Homo sapiens: one gene and its partners. The protein of the gene in region 4 interacts with the protein of the main gene of each other region in a biochemical or structural test. Each region holds a gene or a part of one and is shown on either strand. Other genes may lie near its edges. The genes, in order: RAC1, SRPK2, PRPF40A and FMNL1.

Region 1 (3,568 bases), on a different chromosome or scaffold from region 4:
GGTTACATGTCCGCATTGAGGTGTAGGGCTTTGGAATTGAAACTTGGGTGTGTGTGTTGAAGGGGGAATGGGAGGGTGGAATTGGCTATTGAATTGCTTACTCCCTATAGGCAGCAGAATTGGGTGGAGACAGGAAAGTGCTGCTCTGGTGATGGGTTACCCGGGAGCGCACGTAGCTGAGCCTCATAATGCACCATCCTGCAGCTGCTGTGAGTCCTCCCTGTGCAGGCTGGGGAGGTGTCGCCTCCTCCCCACCTGTGTTCACCTCCTCAGGCACAACACACACCCAGGTGCTCTCTGAAGTGTCGTACCCATGTTTTTGTTGTTGTTGTTGTTGTTTTCCTTTTTTTTTTTTTTTTTTGGAGTTAGTCTCTCTCTCTTGCCCAGGATGGAGTGCTGTGATGCGATCTCAGCTCACTGCAGCGTCTGCCTCCTGGGTTCAAGTGATTCTCTGCCTCAGCCTCCCAGGTAGCTGTGATTACAGGCATACACCACCACACCTGGCTAATTTTTGTTTCTTTAGTAGAGACGGGTTTCACCATGTTGGCCAGGTTGGTCTCAAACTCCTGACCTCAGGTGATCTGCCCACTTCAGCCTCCCAAAGTGCTGGGATTACAGGCGTGAGCCACGGCACCCATTTTTTACTGTAAGTGGAATCATGCTGTCCCTGTTGTCCTAAATTTATGGGGGAGATTTTCCTTATCTACATATGTAGATAAAGGTTTAATCATTAATGATTAATGATTTTGAAGTACTATAACTGATTTAACCCACTGGTCACTTGGACTCTTGGTGTTAACAAACATTGCTGGGTTCAGTGTTGTCCCTTATGTCTTTGTGTACACTTGATAGATTATTAGAAGCAAAATCGTGCCAAATCAAAAGACAATGGATGTTTTAAATTTTGGTAGATACAGCTGGGCGTGATTGCTCACGCCTGTAATCCCAGCACTTTGGGAGGCCAAGACGGAAGGATCACTTGAGGTCAGGAGTTCGAGACCAACCTGGCCAACATGTTAAAACCCCCACCTCTGCTAAAAATACAGTAGTTAGCCGGGTGTGGTGGTGCACTCCTGTAGTCCCAGCTACTCAGGAGGCTGAGGCATGAGAATTGCTTGAACCCGGGAAGCAGAGGTTGCAGTGAGCCAAGATTGTGCCACTGCACTTCAGCCTGGGTAACAGAGTGAGACTCTGTCTCCCAAAAAAAAAAAAAAATTAAAAAATTATTTTTTGGTAGATAACTACCAAATTGCTGTCTATAAAGCTGTCACTTTGCTGGCCTTGACTTAAGTGGCCTCTTAGTACACACTGCCATTAACGTGGGTTGAAGTTATCTAACCGTTTTCATTTCCAATCACAGATGTGGTTAAAATCTTTTGAATTTTTTTTTTTTTTAATTAAAAAAGTTTGCTCACGCCTGTAATCCCAGCACTTGGGGAGGCTGAGCTGGGCGGATCACTGAGGTAAGGAGTTTGAGACCAACTTGGCCAAGATGGTGAAACCCTGTCTCTACTAAAAATACAAAAATTAGCTGGGCATGGTGGCACATGACTATAATCCCAGCTATTCGGGAGGCTGAGGCAGGAGGATTGCTTGAACCTGGGAGGTGGAGGTTGCAGTGAGCCAAGATTGTGCCTCTGCACTCCAGCCTGGGCAACAGAACAAGACATTGTCTCCAAAAAAGAAAAAAAAAATATGTGTTTTTGTAGAGCTATGTTTTGCTATATTGCCCAGGCTGGTCTTGAAGACCTGGCCTCAGGTGATTCTCCACCTTGGTCTCCCGAAGTGTTGGGATTACAGGCGTGAGCCACCACACCTGGCTCTTTTGAATGTTTACTGTACATTTTTAGTCTCTTGTGAATTGTCTGTTTAAATCTTTTGTATTTTTCTACTGAAATTTTTTCTTACTGATGGAACATTTCCTTCCTTCCTTCCCTCCCTCCCTCTCTCCCTCCCTTCCTCCCTTCCTTTCTTCCCTCCCTCCTCCTCTCCCTCCCTCTCTCCCTCCTTCCCTCCTCTCCTACTCCTTCCCTCCTTCCCTCCTTCCTTCTCCTTTCTTTTCCCCTCCCTCCCTTGCTCCCTCCCTCCCTCCCTTTTTTTTTTTTTTTTTTTTTGAGATGGGGTCTTGCAGTATTGCCCAGGCCGGACTTGAAGTACTGGTCCTTCCACCTCAGCCTATTGAGTAGCATGCTCCACTGCACGTAGCCTGATGGAACGTTTTGTAAATAATCCTCAGTCTGTCATTTGTCTTTGTACTTCATTATGGTGTCTTCTGCCATATAGAAATTTAGCATTTAATGTAAATAATACCACCTTACCCGGGCACGGTGGCTCACACCTGTAATTCCAGCACTTTGGGAAGCTGAGGTGGGCGCATTATGAGGTCAGGAGATCAAGACCAGCCTGATCAACATGGTGAAACCCCATCTCTACTAAAAATACAAAAATTAACCGGGCATGGTGGCGTGCACCTGTAATCCCAGCTCCTCAGGAGGCTGAGGCAGGAGAATCACTTGAACCCAGGAGGTGGAGGTTGCAGTGAGCCGAGATCGCACCACTGCACTCCAGCCTGGGTGACAGTGAGATTCTGTCTCAAAAAAAAAATAATAATAATAATGATAATACCACCTCTCCCTCAGAATTGTATGTTGTACTTAGAAAGGCCTTTCCTACTTAAATAATGCAAAAGTATGCTCTAGTATTTTTTTCTAGGATTTTTGTGGCTAAAATTTTTATCTTTAATTCATTTAGGACTTATTTTTGGTATAGAATGAGGCAAGGACCTGATTCTTTTTCCCTTATGGGGAAAAAAAGTCACAATACTATTTATCCAATAATTTTTTTCTTATGGAAATATAATTAACATGTCCATCACCATCACACCTTTTCTTTCTTCTTCTTCTTTTTTCTTGAGACCGAGTTTCGCACTTGTTGCCCAGGCCGGAGTGCAGTGGCGCAACTTGGCCCACTGCAACCTCTGCTTCCCGGGTTCAAGCGATTCTCTTGCCTCAGCCTCCCAAGTAGCTGGGACTACAGGTGCCTGTCACCACGCCCTGGCTAATTTTTGCATTTTTAGTAGACACAAAGTTTCGTCATGTTGGCCAGGCTGGTCTCGAACTCTTGACCTCAGGTGATCCGCCCACCTCGGCCTCCCAAAGTGCTGGGATTACAGGCGTGAGCCACCGTGCCCAGCCTCTGCTTTTTATTATATTTTTCCTTTTTTTTTTTTTCTTTTTTGCCTTCCTGTGCAGAGGAAACACTATTTTCTTCTAAAGCTTGGTTTCTGCTGACCAGTAGCAATTTTTAACATCAGTCTGATTTCCCTCTGTCAGCCTATAGGCTTTGCTGGGTTATCTCTCCTGACTAATTTGTGTAGCAACTTCACATGAATTTAAACATTTGTATCATCAGTTAACACTCACTTTGAAAATGTTATTGGGAGGCTTGTTAAGTCAGGTGTATTTTGTGTGACTGCTCTACACTCAGGCCTTCTGGAAACCCTGCAGAGGGTAGCTCTAGTGGCCAGCTAGCTCTCTTGCTGAAAATGAGCAACATAAGTACATGAAAA
Region 2 (3,568 bases), on a different chromosome or scaffold from region 4:
GTAGCCGGGATTACAGACGTCCACCAGCACACTCAGCTAGTTTTTGCATTTTTGGTAGAGACAGGATTTCACCATGTTGGCCAGGCTGGTCTTGAATTCCTGACTTCAAGTGATCTAGTGGCCTCAGCCTCCCAAAGTGCAGGGATTACAGGCGTGAGTCACCACACCCAGTATCTAATAAGGACATAGTGTTTTGACAGGACCACAAAATAGATCAGTCTCTTTCTTATTTAACATCCGCATGGAAAAAATTAGAACAACAGCTTCAGAAAAACAGGTAACTTAGCAGCCAATCAGAAATAATGTAAAGTGGTTTTGAAATAAAAATACTTCAACTCCATCACCTCACATTTCACTAAACTTGGCCACCATAGTCCAGAAAATGCATAAAGAAGACAATTTTTGAAAGGCTCTAACTATCCCAACTCTGCACAGATCATTAAAACTTAACAAGACAGGCTGGGCGTGGTGGTTCAAACCTGTAATCCCAGAAATTTGGGAGGCCGAGGCAGGCAGATAACTTGAGGTTAAGAGTTCGAGACCAGTCTGGCCAACATGGTGAAACCCCTCTCTACTAAAAATACAAAAATTAGTTGGGTGCGGTGGCAGGTGCCTGTAATCCCAGCTACTCGGGAGGCTGAGGCACAAGAATCGTTTGAACCAGGGAGGGGGAGGTTGCAGTGAGCCGAGATCGCACCACTTGCACTCCAGCCTGAGCAACAGAGTGAAACTCAGTTTTCAAAAAAAAAAAAAAAAAAAATTAACAAGACATTAAGTCTTACCTATTTGAGGATACACAGCTTTTATAAATGTGTCTACCCTTTAAATACACAACTTTTTTATAATTTGAACAACTCAATAATAAACGGTCTCTTTTAACATGGTGCATATAAAGTAATATGCGTAAGTACTTACAGGTTTCTGCTGTGGAGCCGTACTCACTAAAATAAAATCAAACAAAATCTGTATTTAGCAGAAAACAGACACATGCCTTCATGTAGGTCATTCGAATTGCAAAGTGAAATAATTATTGTCTTTTAATGGCTATCCAACTTCAAAAACTATTAATCAGAGCTTCTTAATCACAAGGATCTAGAGTAAGTTTATGCCACTGAAACAAATGAGTGACTCCTGAAGTCACAGCAGAAGTTACTCATACTGAGCCATTTCTCTTATTTATCTAAAATGAAATACTAATACATCTCAAACACAGTCAAGCTCAAGCACCAACAGATCACTTAAGAAAATGGAAAAGAATACATATCACAGTCATTAAACCAAATTTGTTTAAAATATAATGAAATGAACAATGTAGATGTACATCGATATTTGGAATCTATTTTGCAAGCTTTCTATAATTTAAATCAAATACTGCAGTTGGTATGCAGCAAATAGTCTAGGAATCACATGATTAAACCCCTACACCAGGGTCAAAAGCTTAACAGGCTGGGTCCATGATCTAAACAACACCCTGATGGCAGTAAAGGAGATGTGAAGAGAGCCCCAGGCAGTCCCAGGAGCCTCAGCCCTTTAGTATCCATGCTTGCCTGACAACACACAAAGGCACAGATCATGGTGTCGAAGAGTGAGAAGCACAGTCCACACTTCACTGCACCACCTCCCCGACCCCGCCCCAGAAATAAAGATATCCCAATACTCAGGTCACTTGATCTTCTTCCCCCACCATCAGGCCTTTTCTAACTAACTCCAAATCTGTTGATACAACTCAGGTTGACATAGCTATGCTAAATGGACAACAAGAATTTATGTACACAAAATTGAAGCCAGAAAAATATTCTGATGACTAAAGGTCAGCTACAGGAAAGCTGTTACTATGTTCTCCTCTGCAGAGAAGCTGGCAACAGAAAAAACTGTTCAAATATAGATGAAGCAGCAACTACAAATTTAAATGGCCTTTTAAAGGGGGACAAAAGTAAATACTTCCAATATTAAAATATAATGTAGCTGGGGCATTTTCCATTTCAAGGGTGCAGTTATTTCCAGCAATTAAACTTTTCCAAAATCTTCCTTATGTGTAACGTTTGATTCAGATACCTTCAACAACTGCAACTTTGCAAGCTCCCAATGCCCCCACACTGAAATGAAGCTGGCTCAGCTCCCTCACCTGCAGACCCTGAAGGAGGAGGAGCACCTGCTTTCTGCCACTCAGTGGCCTCAGCTGCCATTCTTCTCACATATGCATCATCCACACACATCAAGATATTTTCCGGCTTTATGTCAGTATGAATGATCTTGCACTTACTGTGTAAGTAATCTAACCCTTGAAGGACCTGGATATAGTAAAATCAAGAGAGAAGATAAGCTATTAATATCTCATTATATAACTTTTATTTATTTGAAAAACATGTAATACAATGCCAGGGTACAAAGTTTGATAAACACAAAAGGATATTTAGTAAAAATCTCCCTCCCATGCCTACCCACATTGGAATCCAGCTCTCCTTTCCATAAGCAACCAGTGTGTATAATTTCAGAGATTATTTATGCTCGTGGAAGCAAATGCATCTACATACAGTTGAACCTTGAACAACACAGGTTTGAACTGCATGGGTTCCCTTATACACAGATTGTCTTCCACCTCTGCCACTCCTGAGACAGCAAGACCAACCCCTCAGCCTACTCAACGCGAAGATAATGAGGATGAAGACCTTTATGATCATCTACTTCATATGATCTATCCACTTAATGAATAGTAAGTATATTTTCTCTTCTTTATGATTGTCTTAACATTCTTTTCTCTAGCTTACTTTGTTGTAAAAATATGCTATATAACACACATACAAAATACATGTTAATTGGTCATGTGATCATTAAGGATTCTGATCAACAGTAGGCTAGTAATTCATGTATCATACAATTGACCCCTTTAGGTATACAATTCAATGGATTTTAGATGTGCGACTATCATTACTATTTATTTTTTAAATTTTTTATGTATTTATTTTTTGAGACAGAGTCTCGCTCTGTCACCCAGGCTGGAGTGCAGTGGCACAATCTTGGCTCACTGCAACCTCCGCCTCCCAGGTTCAAGCAATTCTCCTGCCTCAGCCTCCCAAGCAGCTGGGATTACAGGCGTATGCCACCACGCCTGGCTAATTTTTTTTGTATTTTTAGTAGAGACGGGGTTTTACCATATTGGCCAGTGGTCTCGAACTCCTGACCTTGTGATCCACCTGTCTCGACCTCCCAAAGTACTGGGATTACAGGCGTGAGCCACCACACACGGCAACTACCACCACTATTTAAATGACAACATTTTCATTGCTCCAAAAAGAAACAACATATTCATCAGCATTCACTTCCCATCTCTCTCCTACCCCTTCTAACCCTTAGCAACCACTAATCTACTTGCTGATTCTGGACATTTCCTATAAATGGAATCATATAAAGTATTTTTTTGTAACTGGCATAATGTTTTCAAGTTTGACTCTTGTGCAGCATGTATTAGTACTTCGCTTATTCTTATTGGCAAACAGTATTCCACTGTATGGAGATACAACATTGTGTTTATCCCTTCACCTCATGAACATTTGGGTTATTTTCACTT
Region 3 (3,568 bases), on a different chromosome or scaffold from region 4:
AATTTCCGAGTTGTAAGGGAGTATGGACATATTTAGTCTTGTTTGAAGAGGAGTGAGTGCAGTTGTAAGTGCCTGATGTTACTTTGGGACAGCTCTATCCAATAAAAATGTGAATGCCACAAATGCGATTTTAATTTCCTATTTATTTTAGTAATTTAACCCAATATAACCAGATATTATTTTAACACATCAATATTTTTAAAAATTGCTAATATTTGTGGTATTAAATCTTCAAGATCATTGTGTATTTTGTACTTAACAGCACATCACAACTCAGACTAGCTACATTTCATGTACCGAGAAGCTACGTTTGGTCAGTGGCTACCTTATTGAACAGTGCAGGTATAGGAATTGTGGGAACAGAATATAGGGTTACAGTTTCTTTTAGGCACATTTGTGTATAGCAGCGGTCCCCAACCTTTTTGGCACCAGGGACCGGTTTAGTGGAAGACAGTTTTTCTTGGTGGGGTGGGGTGGGGAGTTGGTATCATCAGGCATTAGATTCTCATAAGGACCACACAACCTAGATTCCTGGCATGCTCAGTTCACAATACGGTTTGCAGTCCTATGAGAATCTGATGCCGCCACTGATCTGACAGGAGGTGGAGCTGGGGCGGTAATGCTTGTTCCACCACTCACTTCTTGCTGTGTGGCTTGGTTCCGGTTCCGTGGCTGGGGGTTGGGATCCCCTGGTGTATAGGATTAAACTCCCTGAGGATTGGGTTGGAAGCAGGAAGTGTGGAAATTGAAACTAGATATGGGTTTGAATCCTAGGTCTCCAAACTACTTTGGGAAAATTATACATCCTCCTCTTAAGGCCCCTTGTTTTTTAAAAGTAAATAAAAATACCTAGAACACATTAGGCACTATTTTTAAAGACAGAAAGTATATATTTAAGGAAACATGCATATACATTCTTTAGCCTCATCATTTGAGGTAGATATCCAGTAATTTAAGTTAACTTTTACCTTTTTTTTTTTAAAGCTAAAAATTAGGTTCTATCTTAAAGGGTAGGAAATAGAACCTTAGGAAGATAATGTGCAGTTTCAAAAGTTATTTTCTCTAAAGGACAAAATATTTTTTTGCCTAGAGGCAGTTGTTACTTTGCCCAAATAGCAAATATTCTTTGTGCCCAAACAGGTTTGGGATAACATTGGTAGAAGAGTTTTAACTATGTCAAAGTTTTTGTGTGTTTTCATGTTAGACGCTTATTTCTCATGTACTCGAGATGACTTTCCAAATATAATTTTTCTCCCTAGATATTTTTAGATGAATTACATGAACATGGACAACTGCATTCTATGTCATCTTGGATGGAATTGTATCCAACTATTAGTTCTGATATTAGATTCACTAATATGCTTGGTCAGCCTGGTAAGATTATTTTCTTTCCTAATTTACCGTTATGGTAGTAGTTGAAATGGGCCAAATGCAAAGGTGATTGTGTTGGGGGAAAGGGTGCTTTATTTTTGTTTTTTAAACAACAAAGTAATTGCAGCTCTTTGGTTAGAGCTAGCTTTTGACTTCTTTAGTTTTTTCATTAGGATCAACTGCACTTGATCTTTTCAAGTTTTATGTTGAGGATCTTAAAGCACGTTATCATGACGAGAAGAAGATAATAAAAGACATTCTAAAGGTAAATATATTTATTCTTACCTTTTAACCAATAGTATATCTTAAAAGTTAGTACTGTATTCCTTTGATTTATGCATTATTAATGTTAAGATTTCTTTTTTTTAGGATAAAGGATTTGTAGTTGAAGTAAACACTACTTTTGAAGATTTTGTGGCGATAATCAGTTCAACTAAAAGATCAACTACATTAGATGCTGGAAATATCAAATTGGCTTTCAATAGTGTAAGTTATGTTTTCTGTTGTAAGTAACTAGTTTAGTAGTATAGTTTTTAATTTATTCAGATAAAAGCAGCTAAGTTGCAGAGTGTTGGAATAAGGGAATATGAATAGAATTTTACAGAGTGGTAGCCAGTCTTTCAGGTAAGGTAAAACAAAAAACTTTATTTAGATGATGGATTGATATTAAACTTCCTTTGCTCAAATTAACTGGTATTATACATAAAATGGCCATTATAAATCAGGCCTTGGGCCACACATAAAGTACACTAACGATAGCTGATGAGCTTAAAAAAAAAATTGCAAAAAATCCTTATAGTGTTTTAAGAAAGTTTACAAATTTGTGTTGGGCCACATTCAAAGCGGTCCTGGGCCACAGGTTGGACAAGCTCGTTTTAAACAATGCGTGATTCCTAAATTAACAATAAATTATTTCAGCTAATAGTTATGATACTATTATAACTGATTAAATATGATTTTCTTAATAGTTACTAGAAAAGGCAGAAGCCCGTGAACGTGAAAGAGAAAAAGAAGAGGCTCGGAAGATGAAACGAAAAGAATCTGCATTTAAGAGTATGTTAAAACAAGCTGCTCCTCCGATAGAATTGGATGCTGTCTGGGAAGATGTATGTATACTTGTTATTTTTTTCTAATGGAATTCTTTTCTTTACAGTTGAGAAATTTAAAATATTTTTATTTTTCATTTTATAGCCACAAAAATAAGCTAAATTTATTTGTAGAATATATTAAATATATTTAGAATATAATAAAAGCATTAAATCAGCTGTTGACTCTGTTTAGGAATATTTGTAAAGAATGGTTTGGACTTTTGAAGGGAGGAAATAATGGACTTTAAGGGGACTGATTCATCACAGTTTTCACTTGCTGTTATGATTTATTTTAGATGTATCGTTGTACTTTTCTTGGTATTCATATATTTATTTTGTATCTGAATTTTTCAGATCCGTGAGAGATTTGTAAAAGAGCCAGCATTTGAGGACATAACTCTAGAATCTGAAAGAAAACGAATATTTAAAGATTTTATGCATGTGCTTGAGGTAATTTTAGAATTCTCATATACAAAATATATAAAATATAAACAAATTGAAGAACTTAGAATGATGAAAGTATGTTGCTTAATATTCACTGCTTTTATACAAATGTACTTACCTGGATGGTTAGAGAATGGTTTTTTTCCTATAAAAACTGCTTTTAAGTAAAAGAAACTATTAAGTTTCCATGGGAATATAAAGATTTGTATGTGAAGACTGTTTTGTATTTTTAGAAAGTTTTAGAAATTGAGCAGTTTGGCAGCCACATGGATTGATTGACTAATAAAGAAAACTTGAAATTTTTCTTGTAAAGCAGATAGAAGACAGCTTTTAGGCACATTTGAGGTATTATACCACATTAGCTGTGTAGAAAAGAAAGTTTCTGGAAAGTAATGGAATAAATGGTAAGTTTTTGTTAAAATAAGCAATGAAACAATAACATCTCAGGTCACTTTAATAGGTAAGGTTCACTGGGCACGGTGGCTCACGCCTGTAAAACAAGCACTTTGGGAGGCCAAGGTGTGTGCTGATCACCTGAGGTCAGGAGTTTGAAACCAGCCTGGCCAACATGGCGAAATCCTGTCTCTACTAAAAATACAAAAAAATTATCAGGGAGTGGTGGCGGGCACCTGTAATCCCAGCCACTCAGGAGGCTGAGGCAAGAG
Region 4 (3,568 bases):
GCCTGGAATGCTCTTCCCTGTTCCCATGGCTGCCTGTAAAGCCTGTATCTGTCTGTAAGACACAGTTCCAGCGTCACCTTTTCTGGGAAGCCTTCCTGATGTCCCAAGTGGTGGCCACCTCCCTTCTCAGAGCTCCCAGGCACACTTCCATGACAGCCTGTCACACTAAATTGTCCCCCACTTAGACTGTGGGCCCCTGAGGGCAGGGTGACCTGTCTCCTGGGCACCTGCCATATACCTAATACATACTAAGTGTTAAAAAAATGTTTGCTGAATGCATAATTGCATGAATGGACAAATAACATATTGTGAAAGTTTGAGGCTTAATATGCAATCAATCCTCTAGACCCAAAGCAGGAAGCTAGGGATTCACAAGATGCTCTAGGGTCCATCTACTGCCTGCTTCCTGCCTCCCAGCAAGATGCCCGTGTTAGGATGGAGGAACCCAGCCACAGCACTGAACCCAGGGACATCAGTTGAATACCTCATCCTAACCCACCACCACCCTGGGAGGGAGTCAGCCAGGCATGCACCTGCCCCTAGATGGCTACGTACCGGGGAGAAGGGGGACACCTGGAGGCCGCATGGGAGAAAACAGGGGATTAGATGCATACAAGAGGGGTCCCACCAACCCAGAAACTCCCTTCTTATCCCAGACCCATCCAGACTCCAACTTCTAGGTGCCCACCCCGATGGCTTCTTTTTTCTTTTCTTTTCTTTTTTTTTTTTTTTTTTTTTTTTGAGACAGGGTCTCACTCTGTCACCCAGGCTGCAGTGCAGTGGTGCGATCTCAGCTCACTGCAACCTCCATCCCCTGGGCTCCAGCGATTCTCCCACCTCAGCTTCCTGAGTAGCTAGGATTACAGGCGTGCACCACCACACCCGGCTAATTTTTGTATTTTAGTAGAGATGGGGTTTCACCATGTTAGCCAGGCTGGTCTCAAACTCATGTCCTCAAATGATCTGCCCACCTCAGTCTCCCAAAGTGCTGGGATTACAGGCATGAGCCACAGCACCCAGCCCCACCCCTGATGGCTTCTTAACATACTGGTGTCCCAAACTCTGTATGAGTCCCTTACTCGGACCCCTAATGCATGGCTACCCCTCTCGCCAACCCCAAGGGCCCGGGGTGGGCTGGCTAGATGCAGCAGTGTGGGGGCTGAATTCTCTGTTCTCCCACCACCCCACTTTGTGGCCCACATACTTGATGGTCAGGTGGCGGCTTTTGGGCACGGAGGAGGGTGGACCCTTGCTGAGGTCTTCCACAGACTGCTCCAGGGGCTTGTTTTTCTCTGAGTTGGAAGCCCCGTTGTCTGTGCTCTCCATGTCATACCTGGGGACAGGATGCAATGGGGCTGGAGGCCAACACTGCAGGGGCCACTTAAGAGGGGGCAGAGGAAACGCAAGGAGAGACAGACCTGCAGGTGAGACTAAGGAGCAGGAGGAGGAGGCTGTGTTCTTGGCACTGTGCTGAACATAGTGGTGGAAGAGAGGCCACCCCTCCCTGTCGGGGGCAGGCCTTCTGGAAGGAGCATCGCTCAAGGCCAAGTGGAGGGTTCCAGGGTAGGCTCGGGCTGCCTGGCTTGAAACTGGCCAGGGGAGTGGGTGAGATGCAGGGAGACGGGGATCAAAGCTCTGAGGAGCGGCATGAGGGCTGGGAGCAGGGGGCTTACGTGACAGAGCACTGGGCAAAGGCCAGGTACTCGAGCAGCACATCCAGGCCACGGTTCTCTTCATTGAGGAACTCCTGCACCCACCTGTGGGCACAGGGCTCCCTGAGCTCCAGCCAGAAAGGAGGTCCTGCCCCACATGGGCACAGAACAGGGACAGCAAGGACCCCTGGGGTGCCCTTTCAACCCCCAAAGACCCAATGATACCAAAGGATTCTGGGAGACTCAGGTGGGTCCCACAGCCCAGCCATGCCTCAAGGTGCCAGTCAGAGCATGGGCAGGAAGGGGAGGGGAAGCTGTCCTGGACACCTCCAGGAGGTGGTCCACAAGCACAGCCTTGTGCAGGGGGCAGGGGGAGTAGGAAGGGGAAGCTCCAGGAGCTGCCTGGAAGCAGAGCCTTCCTAGGCCCAGAGAGGAAGATCTGAGCCCTCACTCACCCAATGTGGTTGGTCCTCAGGGAGGTCTCCAGCTCCCGTAGCACCTGCGTGGACTCCTGAACTCGCCTCTTAAACTGGGGACCGAGAACAGGGAAGGCTGGTGGGTGGAGCCCGGCCTCCCACAGGCCCACCAAGTCCTGAGGCAGCAGGCAGCAGCGCCCACCCTCCTCCAACTGGCACAAGTGGCCTTTCATGCTCAGCCTCCCCCACCACCTCCACACACCTGCCCAGCAGAATAAGAACTCACAGGCTACATGTGCTCCCCCATACATAGACAAGCAGGGTACACACACCCCCGATACATGGGCACACAAGGTATACACATGCACACACACAAAGAGGCAGAGTGTGTGTGCGCACACACACACACAGCACATGAACATCCATATACCTGCACTCTAAATACAGACATAGAATATCCACACATCCATACATGGACACACACACACACACATTCTCTCTCTCTCCTAGATATGGACTCAATGGTACACACACACATCCATAAGTGGACAAAGTACACACATAGTATACACACACACCTATGTATGGACATATGGGCTGCACATGTGTATACACACAGTATAAGTACACAGAATGTGTCCATGTAAGCACACACAGGATGTACAGAGGAATATCTAAAGTGCACACCCAGGGCACTCTCATTCCCCTATAAATACACAGACACACAAACACACACACACACTCATACATGCACCCACACACGCACATAGAAAAGTCTGTACACACAGTTACTCCAGCTGCCCAGAGCTTGGAAAATGTGGGGGAAAGGGACAGAGTAAAGAGGGGAGACATGTACCCCCAGGTTGGACATCCAATCAGCTGCTACCTTTCGGCTGACCCCACCAGTATCCACATAGCTCTTCAGCTTCTGGATGTAGGCTGCGGGGGGATTCTTGACTTGAAACCGCTCCTGGGGAGATGGAATGGGGTGTACAGAAAACCAGCCAGAGCTACCCCAGGGCAAATGACCAGTTCTCGTCCCAGTGTCCCATTCTCAGCTCCGATCTGAGGTCCCAGGCTTTCTTAAGACGCCTCTGAAATACCAAAGGTATAAACCCAAACAGTCCACCAAGCCACTTTCTTTTTTTTTCTTTTCTTTTATCTTTCTCTTTTCTTGCCCTGTGGCCCAGGCTGGAGTGCTGTGGCACGAACATAGTTCACTGGAGCCTCCTACTCCCGGGCTCAAGCGATCCTCCTACCTCAGCCTCCCAGGTAGCTGGGACTACGGGTGTGCACCACCACGCCCAGCTAGCATCGGGCCACTTTAAAAACCCCTGGCCTAGGCCTAGCCTGCCCTTCCTGTATGGGCTCCCAGGCCACAGCCCTGACACAGCTTTGGGGTGGACTATGCAGGGGTCAGTCCTGCCGTAGGCCCCGCCCTGGGGTGGGAAGGAACTCAGTCTAGCCAGCAGGTGGTGCCCTCCCTGGACCAGAGCTGGC

Evidence for each region.
Region 1: the proteins of FMNL1 (region 4) and RAC1 form a complex in vitro, tested with the Homo sapiens proteins (one study listed by BioGRID).
Region 2: of the proteins of FMNL1 (region 4) and SRPK2, one has a biochemical effect on the other in vitro, tested with the Homo sapiens proteins (one large-scale study listed by BioGRID).
Region 3: the proteins of FMNL1 (region 4) and PRPF40A form a complex in vitro, tested with the Homo sapiens proteins (one study listed by BioGRID).

Annotation. Positions count from the first base shown.
Region 1 is NC_000007.14:6,388,004-6,391,571, forward strand, and holds part of RAC1 (ras-related C3 botulinum toxin substrate 1), read left to right. Parts: intron 1-3,568. UniProt on the Homo sapiens protein: Plasma membrane-associated small GTPase which cycles between active GTP-bound and inactive GDP-bound states.
Region 2 is NC_000007.14:105,144,368-105,147,935, forward strand, and holds part of SRPK2 (SRSF protein kinase 2), read right to left. Parts: intron 2,292-3,568; coding exon 2,126-2,291; intron 942-2,125; coding exon 916-941; intron 1-915. UniProt on the Homo sapiens protein: Serine/arginine-rich protein-specific kinase which specifically phosphorylates its substrates at serine residues located in regions rich in arginine/serine dipeptides, known as RS domains and is involved in the phosphorylation of SR splicing factors and the regulation of splicing.
Region 3 is NC_000002.12:152,661,944-152,665,511, reverse strand, and holds part of PRPF40A (pre-mRNA-processing factor 40 homolog A), read left to right. Parts: intron 1-1,259; coding exon 1,260-1,374; intron 1,375-1,532; coding exon of another isoform or gene 1,533-1,544; coding exon 1,545-1,636; intron 1,637-1,740; coding exon 1,741-1,857; intron 1,858-2,339; coding exon 2,340-2,477; intron 2,478-2,813; coding exon 2,814-2,909; intron 2,910-3,568.
Region 4 is NC_000017.11:45,231,837-45,235,404, reverse strand, and holds part of FMNL1 (formin-like protein 1), read right to left. Parts: intron 3,039-3,568; coding exon 2,925-3,038; intron 2,182-2,924; coding exon 2,108-2,181; intron 1,758-2,107; coding exon 1,674-1,757; intron 1,334-1,673; coding exon 1,205-1,333; intron 1-1,204. UniProt on the Homo sapiens protein: May play a role in the control of cell motility and survival of macrophages. Plays a role in the regulation of cell morphology and cytoskeletal organization. Required in the cortical actin filament dynamics and cell shape.